3 linked regions of the Homo sapiens genome follow. The protein of the gene in region 1 purifies or fractionates together with the protein of each later gene. This does not show direct contact. Each region holds a gene or a part of one and is shown on either strand. Other genes may lie near its edges.

What was found.
Region 2: the proteins of SEPTIN1 (region 1) and MYO18A purify together in Homo sapiens (affinity purification with mass spectrometry; 3 studies listed by BioGRID and IntAct, with this or other methods). This does not show direct contact.
Region 3: the proteins of SEPTIN1 (region 1) and ASB7 purify together in Homo sapiens (affinity purification with mass spectrometry; 3 studies listed by BioGRID and IntAct, with this or other methods). This does not show direct contact.

Annotation. Positions count from the first base shown.
Region 1 is NC_000016.10:30,378,919-30,389,654, reverse strand, and holds the start of SEPTIN1 (septin-1), read left to right. Parts: upstream 1-7,093; 5' UTR 7,094-7,112; coding exon 7,113-7,130; intron 7,131-7,289; coding exon 7,290-7,380; intron 7,381-7,475; coding exon 7,476-7,562; intron 7,563-7,771; coding exon 7,772-7,895; intron 7,896-8,181; coding exon 8,182-8,316; intron 8,317-8,410; coding exon 8,411-8,528; intron 8,529-9,621; coding exon 9,622-9,723; intron 9,724-10,120; coding exon 10,121-10,220; intron 10,221-10,471; coding exon 10,472-10,637; intron 10,638-10,736. UniProt on the Homo sapiens protein: Filament-forming cytoskeletal GTPase. May play a role in cytokinesis.
Region 2 is NC_000017.11:29,112,789-29,122,729, forward strand, and holds part of MYO18A (unconventional myosin-XVIIIa), read right to left. Parts: intron 9,466-9,941; coding exon 9,378-9,465; intron 9,170-9,377; coding exon 9,063-9,169; intron 8,936-9,062; coding exon 8,759-8,935; intron 8,424-8,758; coding exon 8,210-8,423; intron 7,971-8,209; coding exon 7,828-7,970; intron 6,648-7,827; coding exon 6,547-6,647; intron 5,653-6,546; coding exon 5,589-5,652; intron 5,402-5,588; coding exon 5,257-5,401; intron 4,923-5,256; coding exon of another isoform or gene 4,902-4,922; intron 3,668-4,901; coding exon 3,656-3,667; intron 3,053-3,655; coding exon 2,876-3,052; intron 2,654-2,875; coding exon 2,563-2,653; intron 2,312-2,562; coding exon 2,119-2,311; intron 1,310-2,118; coding exon 1,223-1,309; intron 1-1,222.
Region 3 is NC_000015.10:100,603,790-100,613,730, forward strand, and holds part of ASB7 (ankyrin repeat and SOCS box protein 7), read left to right. Parts: intron 1-5,917; 5' UTR 5,918-6,039; intron 6,040-8,376; 5' UTR 8,377-8,427; coding exon 8,428-8,638; intron 8,639-9,941. UniProt on the Homo sapiens protein: Probable substrate-recognition component of a SCF-like ECS (Elongin-Cullin-SOCS-box protein) E3 ubiquitin-protein ligase complex which mediates the ubiquitination and subsequent proteasomal degradation of target proteins.

The sequences.
Region 1 (10,736 bases):
TGGACTATGGTGTCACTGTTAATTCATATAAACTCTACATTTAACACAATGACCAAGCAAGAGCCTTTTTTTTTTTTTTTTTGAGACAGAGTCTCACTCTGTTGCCCAGGCTGGAGTGCAGTGGCACGATCTCGGCTCACCACAACCTCTGCCTCCCAGGTTCAAGCAATTCTTCTGCCTCAGCCTCCCAAGTAGCTGGGATTACAGGCGCGCACCACCATGCCCAGCTAATTTTTGTATTATTATTATTTTTTTTTTTTTTTTGAGATGGAGTCTCGCTCTGTTGCCTAGGCTGGAGTGCAGTAGCACAATCTCGGCTCACTGCAAGCTACACCTCCCGGGTTCACGCCATTCTCCTGCCTCAGCCTCCCGAGTAGCTGGGACTACAGGGCCCACTACCACGCCCAGCTAATTTTTTGTATTCTTAGTAGAGAGGGGTTTCACCGTGTCAGCCAGGATGATCTCGATCTCCTGACCTCGTGATCCGCCCGCCTCAGCCTCCCAAAGTGCTGGAATTACAGGCATGAGCCACTGTGCCCAGCCAATTTTTGTATTTTTAGTAGAGACAGAGTTTCACTTTGTTGGCCAGGCTAGTCTCGAACTCCTGATCTCATGATCCGCCTGCCTCAGCTTCCCAAAGTGCTGGGATTACAGGCGTGAGCCACCACACCCGGCCACAAGAGCCTTTTTTGCAGGGTTGTTTTCTTTTTGTTGTTGTTTTTGTTTTTATTTTTATTTATTTTTATTTTTAATTTTCTTTTGAGATAGAGTCTTACTCCGTCGCCCAGGCTGGAGTGCAGTGGCGCAGTCTCGGCTCACTGCAACCTCTGCATCCTGAGTTCAAGCAATTCTCCTGCCTCAGCCTCCTGAGTAGCTGAGATTACTGGTGTGCGGCACCACGCCCGGCTAATTTTTGTATTTTTTTTTTAGTAGAGATGGGGTGTCGCCATGTTGGCCAGGCTGGTCTTGAACTCCTGACCTTAGGTGATCCACCCACGTTGATCTCCCAAAGTGCTGGGATTACAGGCGTGAGCCACCGCGCCTGGACTGTGGTTGTTTTTTTTGAGACAAGGTCTCGCCCTATTGCCACTGCACCTGGCCTGGCATTAATATGTACAAATGCTTAAAATATATAACTTCCTGGGCCGGGTGCAGTGGCTGTAATCCCAGGACTTTGGGAGACCAAGAAGGGAGGATTGTGTGAGTTCAGGAGTTCAAGACCAGCCAGGGCAACATAGCAAGATCTTGTCTTTACTAAAAATCAAAAAGCTTAACTGGGTATGGTGGTGAACACCTGTAGTCCCAGCTAAAACAAACACAAAAACTAAAACAAAAACAGATAATGTACATGTGCATGTATCATAGAAAGATGTAGAGAACAGGCCTGGCGTGGTGGCTCACACCTGTAATCCTAGCACTTTGGGAGGCTGAGGTGGGTGGATCACCTGAGATTGGGAATTCGAGACCAGCCTGACCAACACTGAGAAACCCCATCTCTACTAAAAATACAAAAAAAATTAGCCAAGCGTGGTGGTGCATGCCTGTAATCAATCCCAGCTACTTGGGAGGCTGAGGTAGGAGAATCGCTTGAACTCAGGAGGCGGAGGTTGTGGTGAGCCGAGATCGCGCCATTGCACTCTAGCCTGGGCAACAAGAGAAAAACTCCCTCTCCAAAAAAGAAAAAAAAAAAGATGTAGAGAACACATGAAGCAACAAAAGCATGTTTCCAAAGTTATAATGTGACCCTATTTTTATAAATATAAACAGTGTGTATACATATATATAGGCGTACGAGAAGGATAAATACTAAAATTGGGTTATAGAAAGATAGTGATTGGGAGGCCAAGGTGGGCAGAGCACCTGAGGTCAGAAGTTCAAGATCAGCCTGGACAACATGGTGAAACCCTGTCTCTACTAAAAATACAAAAATTAGTCAGGTATGATGGCAGGCATCTGTAATCACAGCTAGTCGGGAGGCTGAGGCAGGAGAATCACTTGAACCCAGGAGGCAGAGGTTGCAGTGAGCCGAGATCGCGCCATTGTACTCCAGCCTGGGTGACGAGGAAAACTCTGTCTTTTTTTGGTTTTGTTTTGTTTTGGAGAGGAAGTCTCACTCTTGTCCCCCAGGCTGGAGTGCGATGGTGCGATCTCCACTCACTGCAACCTCTGCCTCCCGGGTTCAAGTGATTCTCCTGCCTCAGCCTCCCGAATATCTGGGATTACAGGCATGCGCCACCATGCCTGGCTAATTTTTGTATTTTTAGTAGAGACAGGATTTCAACATGTTGGCCAGGCTGGCCTTGAACTCCCGACATCAGGTGAACCGCCCACCTAGGCCTCCCAAAGTGCTGGGATTACAGGAGTGAGCCATGGCGCCCCGCCGAAACACTGTCTTTAAAAAAAAAAAAAAAAGGCCGGGCGCGGTGGCTCACGCCTGTAATCCCAGCACTTTGGGAGGCCAAGGCGGGCGGATCACAAGGTCAGGAGATCGAGACCATCCTGGCTAACACGGTGAAACCCTGTCTCTACTAAAAATACAAAAAAATTAGCCAGGCATGGTGGTGGGCACCTGTAGTCCCAGCTATTCGGGAGGCTGAGGCAGGAGAATGGCGTGAACCCTGGAGGCAGAGCTTGCAGTGAGCCAAGATCGTGCCACTGCACTCCGGCCTGAGTGACAGAGCAAGACTCTGTCTCAAAAAAAAAAAAAAAAAAAAAGGCCAGGTGCAGTGGCTCATACCTGTAATCCCAGCACTTTGGGATGCCGGAAGTTCAAGACCAGCCTGACCAACATGGTGAAACCCCATCTCTACTAAAAATACAAAATTACCTGGGCGTGGTGGCACATGCCTGTAATCCTAGCTACTCGGGAGGCTGAGGCAGGAAAATCACTTGAACCCGGGAGGCAGAGGTTGCAGTGAGCCGAGATCACACCATTGCACTCCAGCTTGGACAACAAGAGCGAAACTACAAGGGCGAAACTCCATCTCAAGAAAAAAAAAATGGTGATATCACATTAAAAAATATATTTTTTTCGAGGTAGGGTCTGGCTCTGTCACACAGACTGGACGATCCTCCCACCTCAGCCTTCTGAGTAGCTGGGACCACAGGTGCATGCCACCATGCCCAGCTAATTTTTGTATTTTTTGTAGACATGGGGTTTCACCATGTTCCCCAGGCTGGTCTCGAATTCCTGAGCTTAAGCCATCCTCCTGCCTCAGCCTCCCAAAGTGCTGGGATTACAGGCATGAGCCACCACTCCCGGCCCACATTTAAATGTTTATATTTCAATTGCATTTTATAATTTTTCTATGAAAACATGTGTTGGTTGTACAATAAACAGATAAATATATATCATCCTAAATTTTGTATTTTTTTTGAGACAGGGTCTCGCTCTGTCACCCATGCTAAAGTGTAGTGACACCACAATGACTCATTGCAGCCTCAAATTCCTGGGCTCAAGTGATCCTCCTGCCTCAACCTCCCAACTAGCTGGGGCAACAATTGTGCACCACGATGCCCAGCTAATTTTTTTTTTTTAATTTGTAAAGACAGGATCTCACTGTGTTGCTCAGGCTGGTCTCAAACTCCTGGCCTCAAGTGATCCTCCCACCTCGGCCTCCCAAAGTGCTGAGATTACAGACATGAGCCACTGCCTGGCCTACATGTTATCCTCTTTTTTATTTATTTTTTTAATACAGATCGGGTCTTGCTATGTTGACCAGACTGGTCTTGAACTCCTAGCCTCAAGCAATCCTCCCACCTCAGCCTCCCAAAGCACTGGGATTACAGGCGTGAACCACCACGCCCAACATTTTTTTTTTTCCTTTAAACATGTTATTCTGTCAAAGGCTGTTGAATAACTCAGAGAAGAGTTGATCAGGGTCTGAACCCAAAGCAGGTTAATGGCATGGAGAGTGTGAAGAAAAGGGGACCAATTTTTCTGAAGGATAGGTGGGAATTGGAAACTCACTGGAAACACTTGTGGGGAGTGAGAGTGGGAGGAGTTCAGAAAGTTTTTTTTCCTTTTTTTTGAGACAGAGTCTTGCTCTGTCGCCAGGCTGGAGTGCAGTGGTGTGATCTTGGCTCACTGCAACCTGCGCCTCCTGGGTTCAAGTGATTCTTGTGCCTCAGCCTCCCAAGTAGCTGGGATTACAGGCACGCGCCACCACATCCAACTAATTTTTGTATTTTTAGTAGAGACGGGGTTTCACCATGTTGGCCAGGATGGTCTCGATCTCCTGACCTTCTGATCTGCCTGCCTTGGCCTCCCCAAGTCCTGGGATTACAGGCGTGAACCACCACACCCGGCTGATTTCAGAATTTTAACTAAGACCATAGAGATGCTCAACCTGGTGAGAGATGCAGGAGGAAGGCCGGTGGTGGAGTGCTGAGAGGTAACATGATCCCTGCCCTTTGCTTATTTATTTATTTATATTATTATTATTATTATTATTATTATTATTATTATTATTATTATTTGAGAAAGAGTTTTGCTCTTGTTGCCCAGATTGGAGTGCAATGGCACAATCTCAGCTCACCGCAAACTTCACCTCCCAGGTTCAAGTGATTCTCCTGCTTCAGCTCCCGTGTAGCTGGGATTACAGGCATGCGCCATCACGCCCTGCTAATTTTGTATTTTTAGTAGAGTCAGGGTTTCTCCATGTTGCTCAGGCTGGTCTCGAACTCCTGACCACAGGTGATCTGCCTGACTCAGCCTCCCAAAGTGCTGGGATTACAGGCATGAGCCACCGCGCCTGGCCTACTTATTTATTTTTTTGAGACGGAGTCTTGCCCTGTCGCCCAGGCTGGAGTGCAGTGGCAGGATCTTGGCTCACTGCAACCTACGCCTCTCAGGTTCTAGCAATTCTCCTGCCTCAGCCTCCCTAGTAGCTGTGATTACAGGCGTGCACCACCATGCCTGGCTAATTTTTGTATTCTTAGTAGAGACGGGGGTTTCACCATGTTGGCCAGGCTGGTCTCGAACTCCTGGCCTCAAGTGATCCGACTGCCCTGTCCTCCCAAAATGCTGGAATTACAGGCATGAGCCACCGCACCCAGCCCCCCTTTCCAGATTCTTAACAGTCCCTAGATGGTATTAAGTAGCATTTTTGTTTGTTTGTTTTTTGTTTTTTGAGACGGAGTCTTGCTCTGTCACCAGGCTGGAGTGCAGTGGCACGATCTTGGCTCGCTGCAACCTCCACCTCCTGGGTTCAAGCAATTCTGCTTTAGCCTCCTGAGTAGCTGGGACTACAGGCAATGCCACCATGCCCAGCTAATTTTTTGTATTTTTAGTAGAGATGGGGTTTCACCATGTTGGCCAGGATGGTCTCAATCTCTTGACCTCGTGATCTGCCCGACTCAGCCTCCCAAAGTGCTGGGATTACAGGTGTGAGCCACCGCAGCGGTCCTGAGGTAGATTTGTTTGTTTGTTTGTTTGTTTGAGATAGGGTCTTGCTCTGTTGCCCAGGATGGAGTGTAGCGGTGCAATCTCGGCTCACTGCAACCTCCACCTCCTGGGCTCAAGCAATTCTCTTGCCTCAGATTCCCAAGTAGCTGGAATTATAGGTACGCACCACCATGCCTGGCTAATTTTTGTATTTTTGCTAGACAGGGTCTCGCCATGTTGGCCAGGCTGGTCTTGAACTCCTGGCCTCAAGTGATCCACCCGCCTCGGCCTCCCAAAGTGCTGGGATTACAGGTGTGAGCCACCACGCCAGCCAGGTGCTGGGAATCTGAAGGAGGGACAATGACCCTGCCTAGGGTAGGTGGAGAGATTGCATAGAGGCAGAGCCCTTGGAAAGAAACACTTGAAGGATGAGGAAGAGTTTAACTGATTCAGAAAAAGGAAAAGCTCAATGTGGGTAGAGAGCCAAGGACGTTTGGAAGAGTGAGAGATGGGGTGATGAGGCCAGCTGAGGGAGGCTTTGGCAGTCAGGCCAGAATTCAGACTTGACTCTGAGTTACTGGGGAGTTCCTGAAGGATTTTGAGCAGTGGAGTTCTTTGGCCAGGATTCTGAAGGAAAATCTCTCGGGCAGTGGTGTCCAAAGACCTGGAGTCCTTTTATGAATCCATTGTCTGAGCTGGAAAATGTATGGCTTCACCCACTCCCAATCCCATCATGGCTTCTGGTCCACTTTTTTCTTTTTCTTTTTTTGAAACAGCGTTGGCCTGGCATGGTGGCTCACGCCCGTAATCCCAGCAGTTTGGGAGGCCGAGGCGGGCAGATCACGAGGTCAGGAGATCGAAACCATCCTGGCTAACACGGTGAAATCTCGTCTCTACTAAAAACACAAAAAAATTAGCCAGGCGCGGTAGCAGGTGCCTGTAGTCCCAGCTACTCGGGAGGCTGAGGCAGGAGAATGGCGGGAACCCGGGAGGTGGAGCTTGCAGTGAGCCGAGATGGCGCCACTACACTCCAGCCTGGGCAACAGAGCGAGACTCCGTCTCAAAAAAAGAAAGAAAGAAAGAAAAAGAAACAGGGTTTTGCTGTGTTGCTCAGGCTGGAGTGTAGTGGTGTGATCACAGCTCACTGCAGTCTTGATCTTCTGGGCTCATGCAATCCTCCCACCTCAGCCTCCCCAGTAGCTGGGACTACAGGATTGTACCAACATGCCTGGCTAATTTTTTAATGTTTTGTAGAGATGGTAGAGGGGCACGTCCCTCTGTTGCCCAGGCTGGTCTGGAACTCCTTGGCTCAAGCTGTCCTCCCTCCTCCGCCTCCCAAAGTGCTGAGATTACAGGCGAGAGCCACCTTGCCCGTCCTGGGAACTGTTTTCTAATCAGCTCATCAAAACCTTCATCTCCCCTGCTAACAAAGGGAGCCACTTCCTTCCTCTCTGCACATACCCCATGTCTCACCACGATGATGGAGCTACAGTGGGACTTGGAATCCAGATGTGTGAAGGATGGAGGGTTGAAGGTACGTAGACAGGTGATGGGCAAAGGGGTCCAGGAGGTGGCAACCCCAAGTGTTCTTGGCCTTGGCCTTCCCCACCTCTCTGGGACTGGGCCAGTTTGAGCATCTCAGCTGCCTCTTCTGCCCGCCCCCTTGTTAGCCGCACTCAGCTTCCTGCCCCACCAGAGGAAGTGGGGAGAGACGGCAGGTGCAGTGATGGCTGGCGGAGTCATGGTGAGTCCTTACACCCAGAAACCTGGGCATCTCGGCCCCCAGCCCCCATGCCTGGGGTCCCCAGACCCCACTGACTCTTCCTAGCCCAGGAACTCAAGTGATCCTGGGGACCCTGCCTGCCATTGCCAGCAGCCTCATATTGTCCACCCCCATCCATAGGACAAGGAGTACGTGGGTTTTGCTGCCCTCCCCAACCAGCTGCACCGCAAGTCTGTCAAGAAGGGGTTTGACTTCACGCTAATGGTGGCAGGTCTGGGGGTTTTGGAGAGGGAACTGCGGAGGGGATGTCCTTAGGAGGCCCTGGCTGTCCCCTCCCCTGACCAGTTGGGCCTGTTCTGTCCACAGGGGAGTCAGGCCTAGGGAAATCCACCCTCATCAACAGCCTCTTCCTCACCAACCTCTATGAGGATCGCCAGGTGCCAGAGGCCAGTGGTAAGACCCTCCCCACCCTCTTGAGGCAGTAGCCCCTGTCCCCAGGTTACACCCTAGTCTTTTCCATCTGGGGACTCAGGTAGTTGACTGCTTTTTTTCTGAGACTTTCCTCCCCTGGGAAATGGGTGCAGGCAACTGTGATATTGACAAAGGAAATTAATTCTGCCTCAGAGCCTCCCCGGATCCCTGACCTCTCCCCCATCCCACAGCTCGCTTGACACAGACCCTGGCCATTGAGCGCCGGGGCGTAGAGATTGAGGAAGGGGGTGTGAAAGTGAAGCTGACCCTTGTGGACACACCTGGCTTTGGGGACTCAGTGGACTGCTCTGACTGGTGAGGAAGAGGAAAGGGGACAGAGGCTCAGCCTTTCACAGTGGCGACTCCCTGGAGAGTTACAGGACTGGTTTGTGCTGGCTCCCTATCTCAAAAGGTGGTGTCTGTTTCAGAGGGCCACTGGGTCCCTGTGCTTCTTGATGACTCACCTAGGCCCCCACCAGTTCCCCTTAATGTCTTTGGAGGGAGCCAAAGAAATGACATTCTACTCCCACAGTCCTGGCTAGCCTTGCCCCCTGCCCTCTGGCCTTTGATCTCTGACCTCACATCCTCTCCCCACACCCAGCTGGCTTCCGGTGGTGAAATTCATCGAGGAGCAATTTGAGCAGTACCTTAGGGATGAGAGTGGCCTGAACCGGAAGAACATCCAGGACTCCCGAGTCCACTGCTGCCTCTACTTCATCTCACCCTTCGGCCGGGGGTCTGGTGGGGGGATCCTGGGGGCTGGCGCATTTAGGGAGGGCTGGGGGGTCTCTGCCCCCTGAGGCTGGGCAATGACCAATCCCTGGGTGCAGGCTCCGGCCCCTAGATGTGGCCTTCCTCCGGGCAGTACACGAGAAAGTCAACATCATCCCAGTCATTGGCAAAGCGGATGCTCTGATGCCCCAGGAAACCCAGGCCCTCAAGCAGAAGGTGTGAGTGATGACCTCTGACCTTTGACCCCATGTGAAGCCAAACCTGATTTCAGCTTAGACTTCTTTGATCTTGAAGTGGCCTTTCTGGAGCATGGTGCATCAGGCTAGATTGTAGGAGAAGCTTCTGAGGAAGGCGGGTGGTAAGCCGCCAGCATAGCCATGTCTCTGAAGGCTCAAAATAGGCTACATATGCAGCCCCCGGGCTAGATGCCTGGCTGAGGCCTATTTGAGGGCAGGAGCATAGACATGAGAACATAGTGACTTCCCTCTGGCCCCCACCCCGTGTCTTCAGAGCCCTTTCCCACTGTTTCTGCTTATATCTCTCTCGGCCTCTCTTTCTCTCTCTTTTTTTTTTTAGATAGAGTCTCACTCTGTGGCCCAGGCTGCAGTACAGTGGCAAGATCAGAGCTCACTGCAGCCTCGAACTTGTAGGCGCAAGTGATCCTCCTGCCTCAGCCTCTTGAGTAGCAGGGACTATAGATGAACACCACCATGCCTGGCTAACTTAAAAAATATTTTTTTGGCTGGGCTTGGTGGCAGACACCTGTTAATCCCAGCACTTTGGGAGGCTGAGGTCAGTGGACTGCTTGAGCTGAAGAGTTTAAGACAAGCCACGGCAACATGGTAAAACCCCATCTCTACAAAAAGTACAAAAACCAGCCAGGTGTGGTGGTGTGCACTTGTAGTCCCAGTTACTCAGGAGGCTGAGATGGGAGGATCACCTGAGCCTGAGAGGTTGAGGCTGCAGTGAACCAAGATGGAGCCACTGGACTCCAGCCTGGGTGATAGAGTGAAACCTTGTTTCAAAATATATGTGTATATTTGTTGTAGAGATGGGATCTAGCTATATTGCCCAGGCTTCTCCTGGTCTCTTAATGTCTGCCCCATCTTAGAATCTTGTGTTTCTCACCATCTATGTCTCTGAGATTTTGTTTTTGTCTTCCTGTATGTCCATCTCTCCCCATCTCTGTCTTTCATGTCTTTCTCTCTGTCTCTGACCACCCAGTATCTCTGTGTCTCACTGTCTCTGGTCATGAAATGTCTGTCATTGTGGCCCGTTTCACACTGTCTCTATATCTGTTTCCCCTGAGATCCGGGATCAGTTGAAGGAAGAGGAGATCCACATCTACCAGTTCCCCGAATGTGACTCTGATGAAGATGAAGACTTCAAGAGGCAGGATGCAGAGATGAAGGTGTGGGAAACAAAGAAGGAAGGCAGGCCGGGCACGGTGGCTCACGTCTGTAATCCCAGCACTTTGGGAGGCTGAGACGGGAGGATCCCCTGAGGTCAGGAGTTCCAGACCAGCCTGGGCAACATGGCGAGACCCCACCTCTACTAAAAATACACAAATTTGCCAGGTGTGATGGTGGGCGCCTGTAATTCCAGCTACTCGGGAGGCTGAGGCAGGAGAATCACTTGAACACTCCAGCCTGGGCAATGGAGTGAGACCCTGTCTCAAAAAAAAAAAAAAAAAAAAAAAAAAGAGGAAGGGGCAGGAAGCAGAGGAGGCGGGTGTGGAGATTGAAGCTGGGAAAGAGAAAGTTTCTGCCGTGTGAGCCAATGGTGAACCCCTGCCCCCTGCCCTCCAGGAAAGCATCCCTTTTGCAGTCGTGGGATCATGCGAGGTGGTGAGGGATGGCGGGAACCGGCCGGTGAGGGGACGCCGCTACTCCTGGGGGACCGTGGAGGGTGAGTGAGGCCAGGCAGGGGTCCTAAGGCCAGCAGGGAGCCCGGGGCCTCTGGGTCAGGCGCACTCAACATGTGAAGTTGGGGTGGGCTTTGGTCCCAGGGGATCCTAGGAGGAAAGGGGGGTCGCTGGGCTGCAGACCGCGGACCCTCCGCTAGAGTGGCAGCAGGACTTTCCTGTAGACCCGACCCTTACGGGTGGGTTGGACCCGAAACTCCCTGACGTTCGCTGGTCCGCGCCGCCCCCCCTCCAGTGGAGAACCCACATCACTGCGATTTCCTGAACCTGCGACGGATGCTGGTGCAGACACACCTGCAGGACCTGAAAGAGGTGACGCACGATCTGCTCTACGAGGGCTACCGGGCCCGCTGCCTACAGAGCCTGGCCCGGCCTGGGGCTCGCGATCGAGCCAGCCGCAGGTGAGACCCGGGGCGGACAGTATCAGAGCCTCCAAGGTCCCGCCTCACCCATGACCCCGCCCTGAGGACTCGTCCCCACCACCCGTGACTCCGCCTTCA
Region 2 (9,941 bases), on another chromosome or scaffold:
GCTGCCTGCATCTCCTCCCCGCAGATGCCCAAGGGAGTTGGCGTGATTACCAGAAGGAAGCAGAATGTGGCCAAAGGCCAAGGCAACTCTAGTGGCAGGAACCGAGTAGCAGGAACGAGCAATGAAGCAATGAGATGGGAAGACAGGCTTGGCACCGAGGGCCCCTTCCCCAGGGGTGCAGCCGCCCCATGCCAAGGTCCATTAGTCAGGAGAGACCACAGAAGAGAAAGGAGAGCCAAGCTCTTCCCACATGCTGTCTGACTCCTGCTGCTCATGCTGACATCCCCCCTCTCCCGGGAACCACAACGGTTCTGAGTGAGGCCACCATAGGAGCCCAGGTGTCAGGAAAAGAAAATTCACTTCCCTGGGGAGATGCGGTGCTTGGGCACTTTAAACATCTGTCCCCGGGGGGATACTCACTCTTTCGCAGCCCCACCACTTGTGCAAGCCAAGCAGGGCCTCATGGCAGAGAAGAGGGAGGGAGAGGTAGGGATCAAAGCAGAGCAGGGAGGTCGGCAGCCTCGCAAAAATGCCAGTTCTCCAATAAAGCACCTTATGCAATTTCCCTAATGGCGGACAATCGCCAAATGCCAAGAGTTTGCTAGGCCAGCCAGTCCCCCACCGAGTGCCAAGGTGCCCAGGACACTAGCACAAAGGGTGACAAAGCCTGCCCCCAAAGTTGAGGGGTGAGGGTTCATATCCATGACAGTCCCCCAGAGGGCGTCTGACAGCTTAGCACTGTTTCCCCTGGGAGCGGGAGGCTGGCTCCTGGCCCTGTTCTGTTAGGTTGCACCAGTCCTCTACTTGGGGACAATGGGAGGGAATGACTATGTCCTTGGGGTCTAGGCCCTCACCAGCTGGGACTGGTCACCAGGGCTCCTAGCAGACATACTGGAGGCTCAGCCAGTCACCAGCTGGGGCCCGAGCCTCAGCTGCTGAGAAAGGAGATATGCTTTCCTGCCTGACTGGGACCCCCATGGGCTGTGGCTCCCCAGGGCACCAGGGCAGAAGAAAGTGCCACCTTCCTGGCCAAGACTGCCTGAGTGCTGAGGGGCAGAGCCCCAGCACCAGAGAGTAGTTGGTGTCTGGGCATAGCTGCTGGACCCTCCCTCAGCCCACAGTGGCACCCCCAGCAGCAGCTCAGATGGGGAGGGCTCCACCACGGGGAGAGGGGTGGGGAACGAGAGGAAAGGCTTGCCCAAACCCTCTCTGGAGCTCCTACCAGGGACTGATGGGAGGCCTGGTCCACAGCAGCCACAGAGTCATCCGTCGGGGGTTCCAAGTCGTCAAACGCCAGCTCGATGTTCTCCTGGGAAAGAAGGCCGAGCGGTAGTGAGCATGGGGGTCACATTGTGGGGAACAGCCTTGTGAGTAGGCTGGGAAGGGGCTCTGAGATCAGCAAGGCCAACCTCCTTCTGTGCCGTGCAGGAGCTCCCTCCATCATCCCAAATGAAACAGCTCCCAAGGAAACACACTGTATTTTTTGCACAGCTAAAATTCTCAGAACCTCTTTTTATCCGAAGCCAGAGTCACATTCTCATTACTCACATGAGTTGATTAGGCAACACAGAACAAGCCCACTCTCAATTTCACACAATCATCCTTGAAACACTTGAAGACAACTGCCATTTTCCTTCTGAATCCTCTCTCGCCCCAAATAAATATCCTGACAATTCACTCAACTCACTTCCAGATGAGGCAGGATTTCCAGTTCTCGTCCCATCCGGGACACCCTTTTACAGAAGGCACTAAATCATCACCTGGCACCCTCACAGATCAGGGAAGGGAGACGGGAAGGCCAGGCCCAGACACACTTGGAGCAGGAACCACACAGTGGCAATCACCAGGCCTGGGAGGTGCCTCAAAAGAGGCCAAGGGTAGCCTCCTGGGGGCCCTCAATGCACCTGTAGGCTTCCTGGAGAGTAAACTCTCCACCAAGTAAGAACGTAGCCAAAGCCAGAGGCCACGGACAAGGGGGCAAGGAACGACTCCTGCTCCAGAGAGCGCAGGAGGACAGAAATGGAGAGTAAGGTGATGCCTTCTGCATCCACAGATGCCCTCGCTGTGGGTGCCAAGGCCAGAATCTGAGGCTAGATGAGGCCCAGGCCCCAGAGCTACCTCCTTGTATCTTTCCAACTCCTGCACGAAGGTGCGCTCGTGGAAGAGCCTCTGCAGCCGGTCTTGGGTGTAGTTGTGGCACAGCTCCTCAAAGGAGGCTCCGCGGGCTGACCCACCCTGCTCAGGGTTCTGGAAGCCCGGGGTGTCGACAATCATCATGGAGCAGAGTGAGTGCTGGCTGGACTTGAGAGCCCTGGATAGGGACAGCCTGGGTCAGAGCCTCGCTGGTTGGCCCCGGGCACCAGGAAGCCCCACCCTGCCCAAGCCAGACCTCTATCCCTGCCCAGGACCCTGGTGGGGAGGGCATGCTGGCCTTGCTCATAGCCCATGGGACAGGGAGCCCCTGCTGGAAGAGACCGGCTCTGCCTCGGCCAACAAGGCATGAAGGCATCTACTCCACCTCTGCCAAAGCAGGAAAAGCCCTGGGTCCTGCCTGGCACTCACCTATTCACCAGGGAGACGAGAAGGGTGAAGAGCTCGCTGTAGAGGCCGGCCGCCATGCCCTCAAGGCACTCCAGTGCACTCAGTTTCGGGCCTGTGGGGCAGGGGGAGCAGCGCTATCTCCTTCTCCCCAGGGCTCCCCATCTGGGTAAGCCCCTGACCTGCCCAGGGCCCAGTCAGCACGGGGCCTGGGGCAGGGCCTCTGCCACTGACAGAGCATCTGTTCACTCCAGCAGTCCCCTCCCGCCCCAGGGATGGCAGCAAGCCCCAGATGAGGCCTCACACTCACAACTACCAGCCAAGGGACAAAGGGTACCTGTCCCATCTCCCAGGCCACTCTCCTCGGGGCCCTGGCGGAAGGAGGTGGAGCGCTGCAGGGTGCCACCCTTGTGCTGGTGCTTGAAGATGGCTGAGGACAGCTCCTCCAGGCTGCAGCCCAGTAGGTACGCAGCCTTCTGGGCCCACTCATGGCGGGCAAACTGCTTGCGCCCAGCTGTGGAGTGGAAAAAGGGATCTGGCATCCTGGGTCTTTTTCCTTAGGCCAGCTGATGACCTGATGACCAGCTGATGACTATGCATCTTCTGGAGGCAAAAGCCAGCCCTGATGACACCCGATGGGCTTCAGGCAGAACAGGGGCAGCCAGCAGTGGCCAGCATTTCCTGTGTCCCGTGGGGATGGAGAGAATGAGCAGGTCCTAAAGGAGGAGGTAACTCCACATGCTGCCACCGGAGGGCAACAAACCAGCTGCAAAAATCCCTTTTCAGATGGCTCAGCTCCGGGGATGCCCAACTAGGGGAAGGGCGGAGTCAGAGGATGAACCAGCCCACCTGGGATGGGCACAAGAACCCCGTGTGCCTGTGGGGGACTTATCTTGAGAGATCGCTCATGCCTCCACATTCCCTGAGTACATTAGAACCCTCCCTCTTGCCCCCTGGCATCTGCCAGTGGAGACCACAAACACCCACTGATGGCCCAACAGTGGGGAGGCAAAAAAGCCACAGGGGAAAGGGAACAGCCCGCACAGACATATGTGCCTCAGCCAACATGTGTCTAATCACGGCAATTAGGGAAAGCTAACAAGAAACAAGGTTTTACCTTCAGCAGCTTCTGTAAGGCAAAGGACCAGCATGCAGCATGCAAAGAAAAACAGTGTGTTAGCAAACAGTCATCAATAGAGCTCGCCGCCTCGGAGGGACCGTGGGGCGGGGGTGTTGTGAGGATGAGTAGGCAAGAAAACACAACCACAGTCAGACTTGGGACAAACGCACACACACACAGTCTCCAGGGAGTATGTTTGTGGGTGTAATCACACTGACACACACAGAAAGAGACCCGCAAAGACATTTGTGCACATGTGTGTGTGCGCAAACACACCCTCCCCCCCCCCCCCCCCCCCCGCCGGAAAACACTGGAAGCTCTGAGGCGCTAACAGACATTGTTTGAGAAGATCGCTGTGCTGACACCCGGAGCTTTCCGCTTGCAGTTGGGGCTGGGTAGGTTAGAGGAAAGCTAGGCTTGTCACCGCCTCAGAGTGAAGTAACTTCCCTCAACACACAGCCACACGCCTGCCCGCCTGTCTGTCCTCCACATTCTCGAGAAAACTTCTCTAACCTAGAGCCTGGCTCCTCCTGGGCAGGGATGCCACTTCTTGGGGTCGCTCGCATGGAGCCTCACGCCTGGGCACCCATTCCTCCATACACCCACCACCTGCCAGGACTTTCTCACTCCAGCTGAGCAGCCTGGGGCCCTTCACATCCCAGAAGGGGCCAAAGCCAAAGCCCAAGGTGCTGTTCAGCGCCAGCATCCCCTTTCCCTAAACTGGAGAAAAAGGGGGTGAAGAGGTGCTCGAATCGCCATCCTCCAACGTAAGTCATCTTGAAGGATGGAGCAGAGCTCCTCCAAGCCAGGCCAAGTCCCCGAGCGCAAGTGCCAAAGCTGCAGCCCATTCGTTACCACGGTGCCTGCTGCCCCCTAGTGGCCGCCACCCTGACATGCAAGAGGAAGATACGGAGCTACCCAACCAGTGGAGAAGGGAAGAGGACTGGGGAAAACTGGTCTGGGGAGGCCCCAGGTAGCAAGCCCACCCTACCCCACCCCACGGTGGGCATCCTGAGAGGTTCCAGGATTCAGATCTAAAACTGGCAGGAGAAGCAGCTACTCCTGGGACTCTAAGACACCCCACAGCCTGCAGGCTCCACTTCCACTCTCAACCTCCAGGCTTCTCCCCAGACCAGTCCTCTCTGCAGCAACAGAACAAGCCCAGCCCCTAGAAAGTCCTGGGCAAGCACCAAGACAGGGCACGGCGGCCCCTATACCCAAGGGCGGGGCCAAGGTCAGTTACCCGCTTGCTCCTCGGGGGCCTCTGTCAGGAAGGGAACAAGAAGGAGAGTTATTCCAGCGGGGCTGCCCTGCCTTAGTGCCCTTCTCATCCCTCAGCCTCTGAACCCCCAGCCCTCCATGCTTCCTCATGGTGCCCCCCAGCACAGCCAGCTAAGTCCAGGCCTCGGGTCGTCACTGCCAAAGATGCTTCCCGGGCCTTCTGCTCTGAAGTGGGGGGCTGAGAAGAGGCACAAGCAAAAGAGGGTTGTCTCAGAACGGCTAAGTCTGTGCTGGGCAAGAATAAACTGGGAGTGGGCAGGGTCCCTGTGAGGTCACCCAGGGGACAGGCCAGCCTACTGGGACCCACTGCAGGTTACCTTTGGTGGCTCCCGCAGCCCCCAGGTGGTAGATGGCAGCCAGAATGAACCAGCAGGCCTTCTGTTCATCGGGGGAGATGCCCAGCACCTTCATGGCCGCCTGCAGCTTACTAAACTGCTGAGCTGCCTTCTGCTTTTCCTCAGGCTGTGGAGATAGATGACCTCAAAGGGCTGTCCCTCCCAGCACACCCCCATGAGGCTGGGCCCTCAGGGCAAGGCTTGGGTAGAGCCAGCAGCTGGAGCTGGGCTCCCACTATTCCCACAGGACCCATGGAGGCTTCTCCTACCCCCAAGGCCCAGGGCTGGCAACCCAGACCCCACAGACCCCTCACCTTGGCCAGTGGCACAATCCCAAACACATTGTTCTCTGCCAAGTGGTTGAGGTGGAGCTCTGTCCTAGGGGTACAAATAAGGCATCAGCACGGCACTTGGTCCCCATGCCAAGGCCATTTCCGCCCAGGGTGGAGACAGACAGACTCAGCTTCCAGACTCCAAGTTTTGTCTGCCCATCATCCCATCATCCCCAACTGGCGGGCCAGCTGTCACTGCTTTCCTAACTGGCCTGGATGCCTGGTTAGAGTACCATTCTCCTGAGGACAAGCCACCAGACATGCCCTGGTGAGAGGATGCAACCTGGCCCCCGGAAGGGAGCAGGGAACCTGCCCGAAGGGTGAGTCCCGCCAAGGCAGAGACGATGCCCTCAGTTACAAGAAGGGCTAAAGAGGACAATGGCCTGGGGATGCTGGCTCAGCCTCATCATTTATCTCTTTTTAGTGAACACACGCGGCAAATCTGAATGTCTGAAGGGAAGAGCGTGGCAGAGGCAGCCAACGTGGGGCAGGAAGGGCTAGTCTGGAGGGCACTGGAAGAGGCATGGGCTTTTGGCCCCAGTGTGGATTCAAATACCAGTTCAGCCCCCTACCAGTCATGCGACAGTAGGCAAGTCCCCAACCACTGGTACCTCAGTGTGCTTTGCTTTCCAGAACTGGCTTCATGGGTAATGGAGATCCTAGCTAGGCCCTGGCAACACTGAAGGGCTGGCTGTTCCCCTCCAATACAGCCAGGCCCCAGTACCCAGGACCAGGGAGTTCTTGATAGGCAGGGACTATGTCTCATCCATCTCACTGTCCCTGGGGCCTAGCTCAGAGCCTAGCACATAGCAGACATGCACTGACCAAACAGTGCAGGATGCGATCAAGTGGCTTTAATTCTGGATGCAATCAAGGTCCAGGAGCCCAGTCAGTGGGCTGGAGTTCAGAGAACCCTTGTGTACCCTCTGACCCATCTCACCTGAGGGTGCCATCCCCACAGGCCAGCAGGTAGTAGAAGACGTTGAATGTGGCTTCACTGGCTGGGCGCCGAGCCACACGCAGCTTCTCCAGAAGCATTGTCTGTGACACAGCATGGACGTGTGGGTAAGGAGGGTAGTGCCAGATCAAGTTTCTCCCACCCCACATAAGAAGGAATCAAACACATGGTCCTCTAGGCCCTGGGGAACAAGCAGCTGCATTTTTTTTTTTTTTTTTTTTTAAGATTTGAGATGGAGTCTCACTCTGTCACTCAGGCTGGAGTGCAGTGGAGCGATCTTGGCTCACTGCAACTTCTGCCTCCTGGGTTTAAGCAATTCTCCTGCCTTGGCCTCCTGAGTAGCTGGGATTACAGGCATGCACCACCATACCCGGCTGATTTTTGTGTTTTTAGTAGAGATGGGGTTTTGCCATGTTGGCCAGGCTGTTCTTGAGCTCCTGACCTCAGGTGATCCACCCACCTCAGCCTCCCGAAGTGCTGGGATTACAGGCGTGAGCCACCGCACCCAACCTGCATCTTGTTTTTTAAGTCTTTTTTTTTTAAGATAGGGTCTCGCTCTGTTGCCCAGGCTGGAGTGCAGTGGCGCAATCACAGCTCGCTGCAGCCTTAACCTCCCAGGTTCAAGTGACCCTCCCATTTCAGCCTCCCAAGTAGCTGGGACCACAGGCGTGCACTACCACATCTGGCTCAATTAAGCAGGTGCATCTTATTCCCAAGGTGCTCAATCAGATACCAGATCCCTCTAGGATCAAATGGGGGACAGAAACCAGAATGAGGTGGAAGAAGACAGGCCCAGCTCCCAAAGGGGCCCTGCTGCTCTGCCCAGACCCCAGGTGCCTGCCTTCTGGAAATGGGAGCTTGTGGTGAGGTATTTAGCATGGGAGGGAATCAGCCTTGGCTGGGCCTTACTTTACTGACAAGCCAGTCCTCTGCTAGGTGAAATCGGCCCGAGAGAAGCCCCGAGCATGAATCTCAGAAAGTGGGAAGTAAGGCTGAGGCCCAGCAGTAGAGTTAGGACAACCCCAGGGTTGGGAGAGTGAAGGGAACTGGGCAGAAAGCTGGACTGGCCCCATCCAGGGCAGGAGGCCCTGAGGGCAGAATGGTGATGCCTCTGGATAGTGCAGGCCAACCCTGCCCATGCCTGGGTCAATTTTGTTAGGGTAGAATCCCAGGAAAATGAGGCATGGGAGAGAGCCTGATGTCTAGGTCATGAAATCATGTGGCCTGTGTCCTACTACCCCGAGTCCTGGGCAGCACTCTCACCTGAATGGAGGCTGAGGCCACCTGGCCAGCTTGGTCAAAGTCCAGGGAGAGGATCTGGGAGAAGCGGGTGGCATTGCCATTAATGATGGTGGGGCTGTTCCCAAAGGCTTCCAGGAGGGTGTACAGAGCCTGCCACTTCTCCACTGCAGAATACAGGCCCAAGGGGATATCAGGAAAGCCAGGGGCAGCTTATCCCCCAGCTAGGAGCTACCCCAGAGGTATGAAGGCTTGGGGCCATTCAGACCAGAACTGCCCGTGGACAGAGGGGTTTCGGGGGGATGGAAAGGCCAGGGAGAAAAAGAGCTGGCACTTAAGAGGGTGCTCTCTCCTCACTCCCCTCCCCTCACCCCACTTTCAGTTTTCTCCCTTGTCCCTGCCTCACCAGAAAACACCTTGTTCCCGCTGATGCCCGCGATGGTGGCCAGGTACTGCACCAGATGCTGGCAGCTGGTGGTCTTGCCACTGCCACTACTGCCCAGGAGGATGATTGACTGATCCTGACGGCTCATCAGCATCGCCCTGTATGCGGTCTGGGCCACTGCATAGATGTGGGGTGCCATGTCCTCCCGCCGACAACCCTTGAACATGTGCATCACCTTGGGCAGGAGAGCAAGGGAGAGAAGGGGTTGGCTCTTAGCTGATCCCATTAAGACACCCCTCACCCCCAAGGTCCACATCTTTCTGGATTTTCCCTCCTGTAGTGCCCAGGGATTCCAAGGCCAAGGCCATGCATGGAAATGAAGACACTAAGTCCTGGACTCCATCAAAGGTTGTGGGGAGGTCCTGTCCCCCATCTCTTGAAATGACTCCTCTTCCCAAGGTCAACTGTGAGAGTGGACAGGAGCCCAGTGGGGTGCCACAGGGGAAGGGCAGAGAGCCAGGGCAGGGGGTGGGACCAGGAGTCTGCAGGGTAGCCTTGAGGGTGCTGCACCTTCTCAGAGTACACAGCAGGGGCCCCACGGGGGCCAAGAACCAGCAGGCTGGGGCCAGCATACGTGTGCAGCAGGCTAGCGCCATAGCGCTGGCGCAAGGTGTGCAGGACGCTGGACTCATTGAGGTACACCAGTGAGGCCAGATCCTCCAGACGGTCGCAGGAGGGAGCATTAGCCTGTGTGGGAGGACAGGCGGGTGGGTATTAGAGCAGCAGAGCCCATCTCCGCTGCCAGAGGATGGGCCTGCCCTGCCCAGTGCACTCCTGAGCCTCCTCCCCCACACCCAGCCCCCTGCCCACCTACCTTCTCAACGTCATCCTCATCCACATCCAGGATGGCCCCATCGTGGTCCAGCTTCACACGCACCTTCCCCTCAGGCAAGTTGAGCTCCTCAGATTTGAGTTGACTGGCTGCAGGGGAGGGACAGACAGCTGGGATGGGCCTGGGAAGCCTCTGCTACTCCACTTGGGAACTTCTCGGTCCTATCCTCCCCCCCACTGCATCACCAGCCTCTCCTTGCTCACTGCTCAGCCCTCACCAGATGCAGAAGGCACATTCGCTGCCCAGCCCTGAGACCAGTGAGTCCTGACATGTGCCCCCAGACCCTCTGAGACTCACCCAGTGAGAAGCCGTCCCTATGGACCAGCCACACCTTCTCCGTCTCATTCCAGGCCTCTTCTGCTGCAATCTGTTCTTCTGTTTTCGCCTGTCAGAGAGAGAGAAGAATAAACAGGCCCTGCTATGGAAGACAGGGACAAGGACAGCCGTAGAGGGGAGACAAGTGAGGGCATGGGCTTTGAGACAAGCCACTGGGCAAGGAATGAGTTAGGTGACAGACACAGAACACAGGGACATCAGAGGTGTCTGGGAAAGAGGGTGGGGAAGCTAGGAGGCAAGGGTGGCTCTAAGGAGCCCTGAGGACAGGACACAAAGGCTAGAGACCGTACCATCAGTGAGGGTCTGGCAAGACAGGGACACAGGGATCTTGTGCCCAGGAAAGAGGAGACCCCAGGAAAGCAAATCACCAGGTTCTCCCTCAGCCACCCTCTGCTCCTCCACCCTGTCAAGCCCAGGAGATCAGTGTCCTGAGTCCAAGGCCCTAGACCCTAGCCACAGCTACTAGGATCTTCCGTGCCCAGCTTCTCCCTTCATCCAAATGATAGGGCCTCCTTTGCCAAGCTG
Region 3 (9,941 bases), on another chromosome or scaffold:
CGATTTGGTAGAGAAAGGTAAATTATTGGCCTGAGATTTATGAGTTTCAGAAAATAGTTTGATTTTATTTCCTACTAGAAAGCCAACCTGTGTACCTTAAGAGTGTGAATGGTATGAAGACAACATTATTACCCTGAAGCACTTAGGCATAATTAACTCTTTGGGCTTTCTGTGTGTTTGTGTGTGACAAATGTGGATGGGCTTTGAAACTTATAAAGATACAATGTTTCTTACACCTCAGATTTTCTAGGAGAACTTTTAAAAATTTGCACAATATCTTATTAATCGTTTGACTCAGGAATTTAAAAACAAAGGAACCTTTTGGTGTGTTTACATATCTGGGTCTTAATTTTAGCACTCTATAAAAAAGATTTCTCATTTTAAAACTTTTACGTAGAGTTTGCTGGATTGAAATTTAAGCATCTAATTCATGTGATCACATTTCTGCTGCCATATTTTGTTGCTGCTTCTGAAAATGCTCTGAAAGTAAACTTAGGACATTAGTGTAATTCCTAAAGGGGGGATATAAGCATGGAAATTATACAAGGTTTAATTCCAAAATTAGCCAAATGGATGACTTTTTTAACATCCAGTAGCAAAAGTATAAAGTGACTTGTTAATCTGAGTTATTTTAATATCCCAAATTGTTTAGGGAATTTTTGTTACAAGGAAGTGCTTAAAATAGCAGAAGTTAATATTTTTGATTTCCTATGTTCCACTGGACTTTCTGCCCTCCACAAAAAGAAATTAGTATCTTTACTGATTCTGTTAATTCTTAAGACATAGCTAAAGAGATAAAGACATAGCTTTTAAGGGGATCTGAGGTATGCATATTCTTGAGACATGGAACTGCATGCCAAAAGAAGAGATTCTAGGGAATAGGATTTAGAATCAGTATCTACCAATGACTGTTCCCTGTTGAAAACTTAGGGCAGCTTTTGTATGTATATGTAGGGAATCAGGAGTACTAGACTACATCATTTCAGTAAAAGCTACCCGGAAATCTTTAAAGGCTAATTTTTATTATGTAAGTATGGAAGTTGTCAGGGAGATGGCCTAATGATTACTTCAGAACTTTTAAAAAATGCTAAAATATTTGAAGTATGTTCTAAAGATCAAAATGAAGTACTGTGTTTTGTATTCAAGCCTCTCAGTTAAATATTTTTTCAGCTTTACATGTAACTCTAGGACGCTTTCATTTCTAAAGAGTAGTTTCACCTGAGATGGTAAAGGGAAGGAGTCTGTGGCTAGTCCAGCACATAAGGTAAGAGAGGATAAGTCTTTACTCTGGCTCTCAGCCAGTTCATTCTCATTGCTTAAATCGTATTTCATGGATCATCTCATTTTTTAATAGTTTTTCTAAGATTAGGGAATATGTGTAAATTGTCAACATCTGTCATGTTTCTAATATCAGAATGACTGAGAGTATTTGGTCTAGATTATACCAGGCATTTAGAATATTTAATTTGGGTATTTATTTACCAACATGGCTAGTTAGGTAGCTTACATTTTTTAACCTGGCAGTTAGCTTTGTATTAATTCTATTGCCAATCATGTGGCTTAAAAAAAATCCAATTTATTTCGTCACCAAATATAGATTTATAATCACGTAGGGAGAATAATTGATTTTAATTGAAGATATGCAATGATGCATCTTTAGTATACTGTGGCCAGTACTTACATTCTTTACACATAAAGTGATGTCATTTACAATTAGTTAATACTATGACACATACAGTATCTCTTTAATTTGTTCACGTTTAACTTTGGTGACATAGAGATACACACCATCCCTAAAAAGTCTAAAGCCAGATATGATTTATATGGGCATATCTGTTACCTGACTTTCAGCCTTCCACATCATAATCCCCTGAATGCCCTCCCTACGTAGGATGATTGTCTCCTTTCTTGCAAACTTTCTAGGAATTGACACATGAGGCTACAAAGATGGTGTTGGCAGACCTAGGTTAATAAGATAATATTGACAGGACCTCATCATTATAATACTTGTGATTTAAGCTTTGAGTTGGGTCTGGATAAGTCCAAAATTTCTTCTGTTGCTTCATCCACACTTCATGAAAATTATTGGTTTCTCTGCTGGAATTTATGTGGGTCATGGATAAGTTGTGCATGGTAATAAATCCTTATGTTATATGGAGGCCCAGTAATTTGGAGGAAATACTAATACCTTTATTTGTTTTGGATCATAACCACTATGCTATACTTTGTTGAGTGACACTAAAATAACACTTATACCTTATTTTGGGTTCCAGGCTCCTGATCATATCAGTAGAGCTTGTGAACAGGCATCTCAGCCATGTTCTCCGTTTTGGTACGGCCGTGTAGTGTTTTTCCATCCATCTTCCCTCTTAGATCTTGTGAATGTGAACCATTGAAGGATTGTTTTTTTTTTCTCAGACCCAATGTCGTCGGAGTTGCTGATTGCATTTATTTTCTTACCAGCATGTATTTTTGTTTACTTTGCAAAGAAATGCTTATTTCTTTCTTTGAGTAATAAGCCATTATCTTGTTGCTAAGTTTATGTGACATCAGAAAGCACAGTTCAGTTTGCATCACTTAATCAGAAATGTGTGGACTTTTAATGATAATAATATGCAAAAAGTCATTAATGTCTAATCATTTATGCCAAAGGAGATTTGGGAAATATGGTCAAATTTGGTGAAGGTTTTGTAACTTCGGACAGGTCTTAAGCATATTTTGTTTTATGTTTATTTTATTCTTCACGCTGTTCTATCATATAGACTTAACTATGTGAAGCAAGAAGTTTTGGGTTTAACTAAATGAACTTCACTTGGCATCTATATGGAAATTAGATGGTAATGTACTTGAATTTCTAAATTAGTAGTTTTTAATATGGTCAATAGTATTAAAGCTTGGAAGCCTAGATTCTTTTCTTTTGACCCCAAGTGGAAAAGAAAGTCTTCCTTGTTTGTTTGCTTTTTTTTTCCTTGTGACTGTGAAAGCTAGAATAAAATTTCTGAAGATCATACCCTCAGAGTATCAGTAGCTCCTGAGTCCACAAAAACATAACTAAACATACATAACTTACAAAATTACCTCCTGGCCGGGCGCGGTGGCTCACACCTGTAATCCTAGCACTTTGGGAGGCCGAGGCGGGCGGATCACAAGGTCAAGAGATCGAGATCATCCTGACTAACATGGTGAAACCTCGTCTCTACTAAAAATACATGAATTAGCCGGGTGTGGTGGCACGCTCCTGTAGTCCCAGCTACTTAGGAGGCTGAGGCAGGAGAATCGCTTGAACCCTGAAGGCAGAGGTTGCAGTGAGCCGAGATCGCACCACTGCACTCCAGCCTGGCAATAGAGCGAGCCTCCGTCTCAAAAAAAAAAAAAAGAAAATTACTTCCTTTGCTATATTCCTTTTCTTTTTATAGGTGACTTCCATGAGCTATCAGTTTTTTAATAAACTCCCTGAGGGAAAATAGGCTTTCTTCCATTCTCATCTCTGGACTTCCTCTGTTGTTTTTTAATAGACATATTTACCACTAGATATTGTGTTTGCTTTTCAGCTCCATAGTCTTTTCTTCATTTATACACGTGACTCGACTCTGTCAGGCGCAGCTCTCATAAAGTAACACCAGGAGGAAATTACTTGTTGATGCTTTTGACTATTTGGGGGTCTTTTGTAATAAATTATTTTCTGTCGTAATTCAAAGCAGTGTAGCTGACAGGGATCATGTGTGCATGACGTGTGTGTATGTTTTTTTCTGGTAAACGTTGATGCACTAGTACATGCAGGGAGTACTTTTTTGGTTTAAACCTGTGGTTATTGTTTATAGCACTTGGTATTTTCAGAAAAGAGAAAAATAATCTTAAAATGTCTGGGATTTTAAAAAATTCATTTTAAGTATGCAGAACTCTATTGGAATACCACCTGGAGGTGCTACCTGTGGCCAAACCCTATCACTGTGCCACGTTAAGTGTCAAGCATTCTGTAGACATTTGTTTGTTTGACTGAAGGAGCTCATATGGAATTAGCACAAGTTGCTACCACCTGTGAATCTTTCTTGTTGGGAGAAATAGTTTGGCCACTTCATCTTTTACCACCAGGCCTTTTCTTGATATTGTTAATAAATTAACACCATTTCCTATTCTGCTCAGCTCTCATGCCGTCTTCCCTGACACTTCCAGCTGCCTCCATGGAAGTGGCGGTGGATAGTTGGAAGCCAGCAACAACCACAAGGATTCTTCAGGCTTGAAGCTATGTTGGGTCATGTTTACTTCTTATGGGAAGTAAGGGGTGCTGAGGACACACTTGGAAGTGAGATGTCCAGTGATGTTCACTCTTGAAATGTAGATGTAGCTCGTGAAAAGTGGTGGCATATTCATTTGTGGCAATGTGTGAGGCTCATCACTGGGGACACTGATTTGCATTTTAAAATAAACTTTATTGTAGGAAAGCTTTGGATTTACAGAACAATTACTGAGGCTGTGCAGAGTTCCTACATGCTCGATACTCAGTTTCTCCTACTAACATCTTATATTAACATGTTTGTCACCACCTTGAGGAGAGACTACCTATACAAATTATTTGGAATTCTGAACAACAGATGTGTTTCTCCCCCTTTATTTATCGAATCAGTTATTTGTATCAATGTGAACTCTTGATATCCACTTTGTACTTTGTCATCTGGTACTGTTTTAAGTATTGCTGCAGTTATTCCCTCTTTGGCTATTGAGGGATCTTTCAGTTGGCTCCTGTGTCCCTTTGACCTCCCCCACCGTGGTGTCTTTCTTTGAGCACCTCCTTGCTTTCTGGCACCGTGTGATGTTCCAGTCTTAGAATCGGCCATTTGTATAAGGATCGCTTTGCATGTTTCACAGCTTGCTTTGTAGGAGTTGTTCTGATCTCGTCGGCCTCATTTATTTAGAAATAATAATAGAATTTTAAAACAAATTTTATTTCCAAGGGCAAGTTGGCAAACTCTTTACCTTCCTTGAAGAGGTTTGTCAAGGAAAAGTAGATGAGAATAGAGGAAAAGAGAGAAGTGGACTATACCAATTTGGATTGGTTGAAAATTCTGGTGTGCAGCCAGCAGGACATACAACTGCTGCGGGCCAGGTTGCTAAGTGGCCCGACCTTTTCTTGTCTGAAGGTTTAAGTGATGCTCACCCACCGTCAGGGGATGAGGTAGTAGTTCTCCCAATATGTAATTCCTAGAGTTTTATGTGGAAGTCACTTTGTGTCCTTAACTTTGTTGGAATTAACAGAGCTGGAATTTAATTGACACGAAGAAAGATCCCTTTTCTTTTAGTTGTGGAGAGAGTTTATTCAGAATTCACATGGGGAACCTGGCAAGGCTGTTGTTAATGTTTTATCTAGTTCGGTGTATGCATAAAGGAATAACAATTTCAAAGTGATTGACTTGATGCCTTTAGGGCACATGAAGAAAATGCATTTAAAGACACAGTCTCCTTTTAGTTGTCATAGATTTTATTTTAACCCAGGCCACCTATTATATTTCATGCACACGTATTCTCATTTAAGTCCTGTTTAGAAAGTGCAGGTGACTTATGGTGTCGGTTAAAAAGTAATTCAGATAAAGCAAGTCTGAAACTGTATTCTCAATAGAGGAAAATGAAGAATCTATGCTTGCATCCAAATTCCAAATATGTGATTTATTATTTTTTTTATTTGCTCTTTCTCAAATAGCTGCATTTTGGGGGGAAAAGCCTGAAACTAAATAGTATTTATTGGAGATGAACATATGTAACAAGATTATTTTCTGTAAGAGTTGATCTGAGTTCTTTCTCTGCTCTATAGATTTATTGTAAAGCACTGAAGTTTACATTCATCAAAAGGTAGACTATGCAGACAGCTATGATTATTATTTTAAGGAATTTTCCTATGATTGTTATTTTTATTTGTTTCTAGGTTAAGAAGGCTTTTTTGCTCTGTAGCCTGGACGTACTTTGAAGCCCCTCCCCACGATGCTGTACGTGCACAATGGTTACTAGGCAATCCGTACATCAGGAGAAGGGACACTCTTCCATAAGGCAAGTTGCCTCAGGGTCATTGGTCATCTGTGTTGTTCCGGGGGAAAGCTCACTTAACTTTTACTTCTCTCTTAAATCAGTTAATGTATACTAAATACACCACTCACTAAAGAAAACCCAGGTTTGTTTTGATATTGTTTCAGTCTTTTTCTTGCATGGTAGGCCTCGTTTAAGTGCCAACATAATCACTTAATTAAAAAGAAAAGCTGTTAAGGATGATTGTGAGCATAGTATGTTTCCATTAATTCCTTCAGACGGTCTTCAGCATTTTCTCTCATAACAGAATAAGCAAAAACCTATTCTGAAAGGATTCTCATTTTAAAATTTCTAAGAAGGGACAATTTTTGTGAAGGAATTGAGAGAAGAAATAAGAGGCAATCTTGTGGCCGGGCGCAGTGGCTCACGCCTGTAATCCTAGCACTTTGGGAGGCCGAGGCTGGTGGATCACGAGGTCAGGAGATCGAGACCATCCTGGCTAACACGGTGAAACCCCGTCTCTACTAAAAATACAAAAAAATTAGCCGGGCGTGGTGGCAGGCGCCTGTAGTCCCAGCTACTTGGGAGGCTGAGGCAGGAGAAAGGTGTGAACCCGGGAGGTGGAGGTTGCAGTGAGCTCAGATCGCGCCACTGCACTCCAACCTGGGTGACAGAGCAAGACTCCGTCTCAAAAAAAAAAAAGAGGCAATCTTGTTTATTCCCATATTTCTCTGAGGAAATAGCTATTTGTAGAAGTAGCTTGATATTTTTAAATTTGAGCACTTAGTTGTGATACTTAGGAGTAGGTAATGACACCATTTTCTATGTATAAAACAACATAGGATATTTGTATTCTTAAGTTGTAATGATTTGACTTAACCTAGGCCTAAGTTTACTTTTGTACAGTCTATAGTAAGTTTTGCAAGATAAACGATTGTTGGTAGCAAGATTATCCTGATATGTCTAACCTACATATGAGAACAGAAATGTCTTTAAAGGGCTTCATCACAGTTTAAAAAATGTTTAGAAACAAAGGGACTACTAGTTAAGAGATGAGTCTAATCTATTCCTTCCAGTTAGCACACCTGGAGTGGCTTTCTGGAAGCTTGTTAGTTTTCTGTATGTAGTTAAAAGCTTAAAAACACACTAAAAATGTTTTTGTATACACACATGTAAGATGCAACTTTTTACCATTTCACTTTGGACTGTTACTGTTTCCATGAAGGAGGTCTCATTTTACTTTCTTATTTTAATTTTTGAGACAGGGTCTTGCTCTGTATCCCAGGCTGGAGTGCAGTGGCACAATCACAGCTCACTGCAGCCTCAACCTCCCAAGCTCAAGTGATCCTCCTGCTTCTACCTGCCGAGTAGCTGGGACTACAGGTGCACACTACCATGCCTGGCTAATTTTTTAATTTTGTATTTTTTTGTAGAGACAGGGTCTCACTGTGTTGTCCAGGTTGGTCTTGAACTCCTGGGCTCAAGTGGTCCCTTTTTCCTTGGCCTCCCAAAGTGCTGGGATTACAAACGTGAGCCACTGTGCCTGGCCAGATATTTCATTGTATGTTGGGTTTTAGTACAGTCCTTTTTTGTGACCTATTAGAGAGTATGAGAATTCACTGTACTACTTTTCCTTTTAGTAATTTGATCATGTGGTTAATCACCAGATTGTTTCGATTCTTTTTTTTTTTTTGAGACAGAATTTCACTCTCTTGCCCAGGCTGGAGTGCAGTGGCGCAATCTCAGCTCAATGAAACCTCCACCTCCCGGGTTCAAGCAATTCTTGTGCCTCAGCCACCCAAATAGCTGGGATTACAGACATGTGCCACCACACCCGGCTAATTTTTGTATTTTTGGTAGAGACAGGGTTTCACTATGTTGGCCAGGCTGGTCTCAAACTCCTGGCCTCAAGTGATCTGCCTGCCTTGGCCTCCCAAAGTGCTAAGACTGTAGGCGTGAGCCACTGTGCTTGGCCTGATTGTTTAGATTCTTAAGGTTTTAAAATATATTGCTACTTTTTTTTTTTTTTTTTTGAGATGGGGTCTTGCCCTGTGGTCCAGGCTGGAGTGCAGTGTTGCTATCATGGCTCACTGCCGCTTTGATCTCCTGGGTTCAGGTCGTCCTCCCACCTCAGCCTCCCAAGTAGCTGGGACTGATCCCCTGGGCTCAGGTGATCCTCCCACCTCAGCCTCCTGAGTTGCTGGGACTATAGGCTTGCACCACCACACCCAGCTAGTAGTATGCACTGTCATTAGTAAGGTTTACTGATGTAGCAAATGGAATGTTCTGTGATATTTAATAGATGCAGTATCAGGAACCAGTTATTCTAAATTTTACCTTTTCTACCTTCTCTTCTTAAAGGCTGATCCCCGTAACCTAATGAATCCTTTGTAAAAAGTGGACTCAGCTAGGATGTTACACCATCATTGTCGAAGGAACCCTGAGCTCCAGGAAGAGTTGCAGATTCAGGCCGCGGTGGCTGCTGGGGATGTCCACACAGTGCGAAAGATGCTAGAACAAGGCTATTCCCCGAATGGCCGAGATGCGAATGGCTGGACTCTGCTTCATTTCTCTGCAGCAAGAGGAAAGGAAAGATGTGTTCGGGTTTTTCTAGAACACGGAGGTGAGTTTTGTAGAAGCAAATCTTTTTCCCCATGGAGAAACATAAATGATGTTTAGTTTAAAATGTGTCTATTTGTAATTTTTAATGCTTCTCTTCTGTTAATACTCAACATATTATTCTCTCTCCTTTGTGAAGATTTGCTATAAGTGTGCCTTTTTGTTTAAAACCAGATTGTTTAAAAGATCAGTTTTATGAATGGATTCTTTTCCCTGAAACTGTAGTGTCTGTACAGCCAGGTTTGCCCAGGTTATTTCAGCTAAGCTACCTTTCTTCAGGTTGTCCAGCTGCTTTTGTTTCAGAAGCAGAAGTGGCTGTGGTATGCCCATAATTAGAGAATTGCACAAGTTTCCCCTGTTGATTATTGCTTAAGCGTATAGACCGAGCACCAGTCCTTTAAACATCATGGCCTAATGATACCCTATCCTTATCTTTTTGTTTCAGATGCTTTCCTTTGTTATTTTAGAGCACTTGTTTTTTCCAGAAACTGTACATAGTTTGTAGGTATACTATAAGAAGATTGGTTATCTGAGATCTAATTTTGTATAAATATGTGCAATTGGAAACTATATTTGACATATTAATGTTTTTGCTTTGAAAAACTGTTCATTCCCATGGTTTTTAAACCAATGATTGTCCAAAACTACTTTCTCCAGTTGAATTTCAGCCTACTTTATTTTCCTAGAGATGGGTTTTTTATATATTTGATCATGTATACCCACATTATCTCTGTAAATTATGGTTGAAAGCAGCTTGGTTGGGGACTCAAATTACATACATGCCATTCTAGGGCTTTAATTGCTCATTAGAAGTGATTTAGTTTCCTTCCTAAGGTGCACTTTGTTACAAAACTAGCCAAACTTCCTTGCATTTTGAGGTGCAGAAAAATGTTGGAAGTTCTAGAATTCTTATGAGGGTCATGTGAATAATGTGAATATATGAATACAAAGGCTAACAGGATGGACTGATTGCAAGGCATGCTAACACTGAGACTAGGAGTAGCCACATGGCCCAGGGGCCCTGAAATGGGAACTATGTGCCTGAAATAGTTGACCATTGTCAGAACCCAGAAATTCTCTGGCCTGTGCCTACTTTGTAGCTTGTCTTCCATGTCATTTCACCTTACAACACAAAAACTTCAGTTCTGAAGTTGATGAAAGGGAAATAGAAGTGGAACGCCAGGAAAAAGATCTGTAAAAAGTAAAAGGTGGGTGTAAAGTCAGAACGGTTAAAATTCTATGCAGGGCTTCATAACATTAAGACCAAGATGAGGGCTCACAATGTTTATTCCACCTAGTCCTGTTGC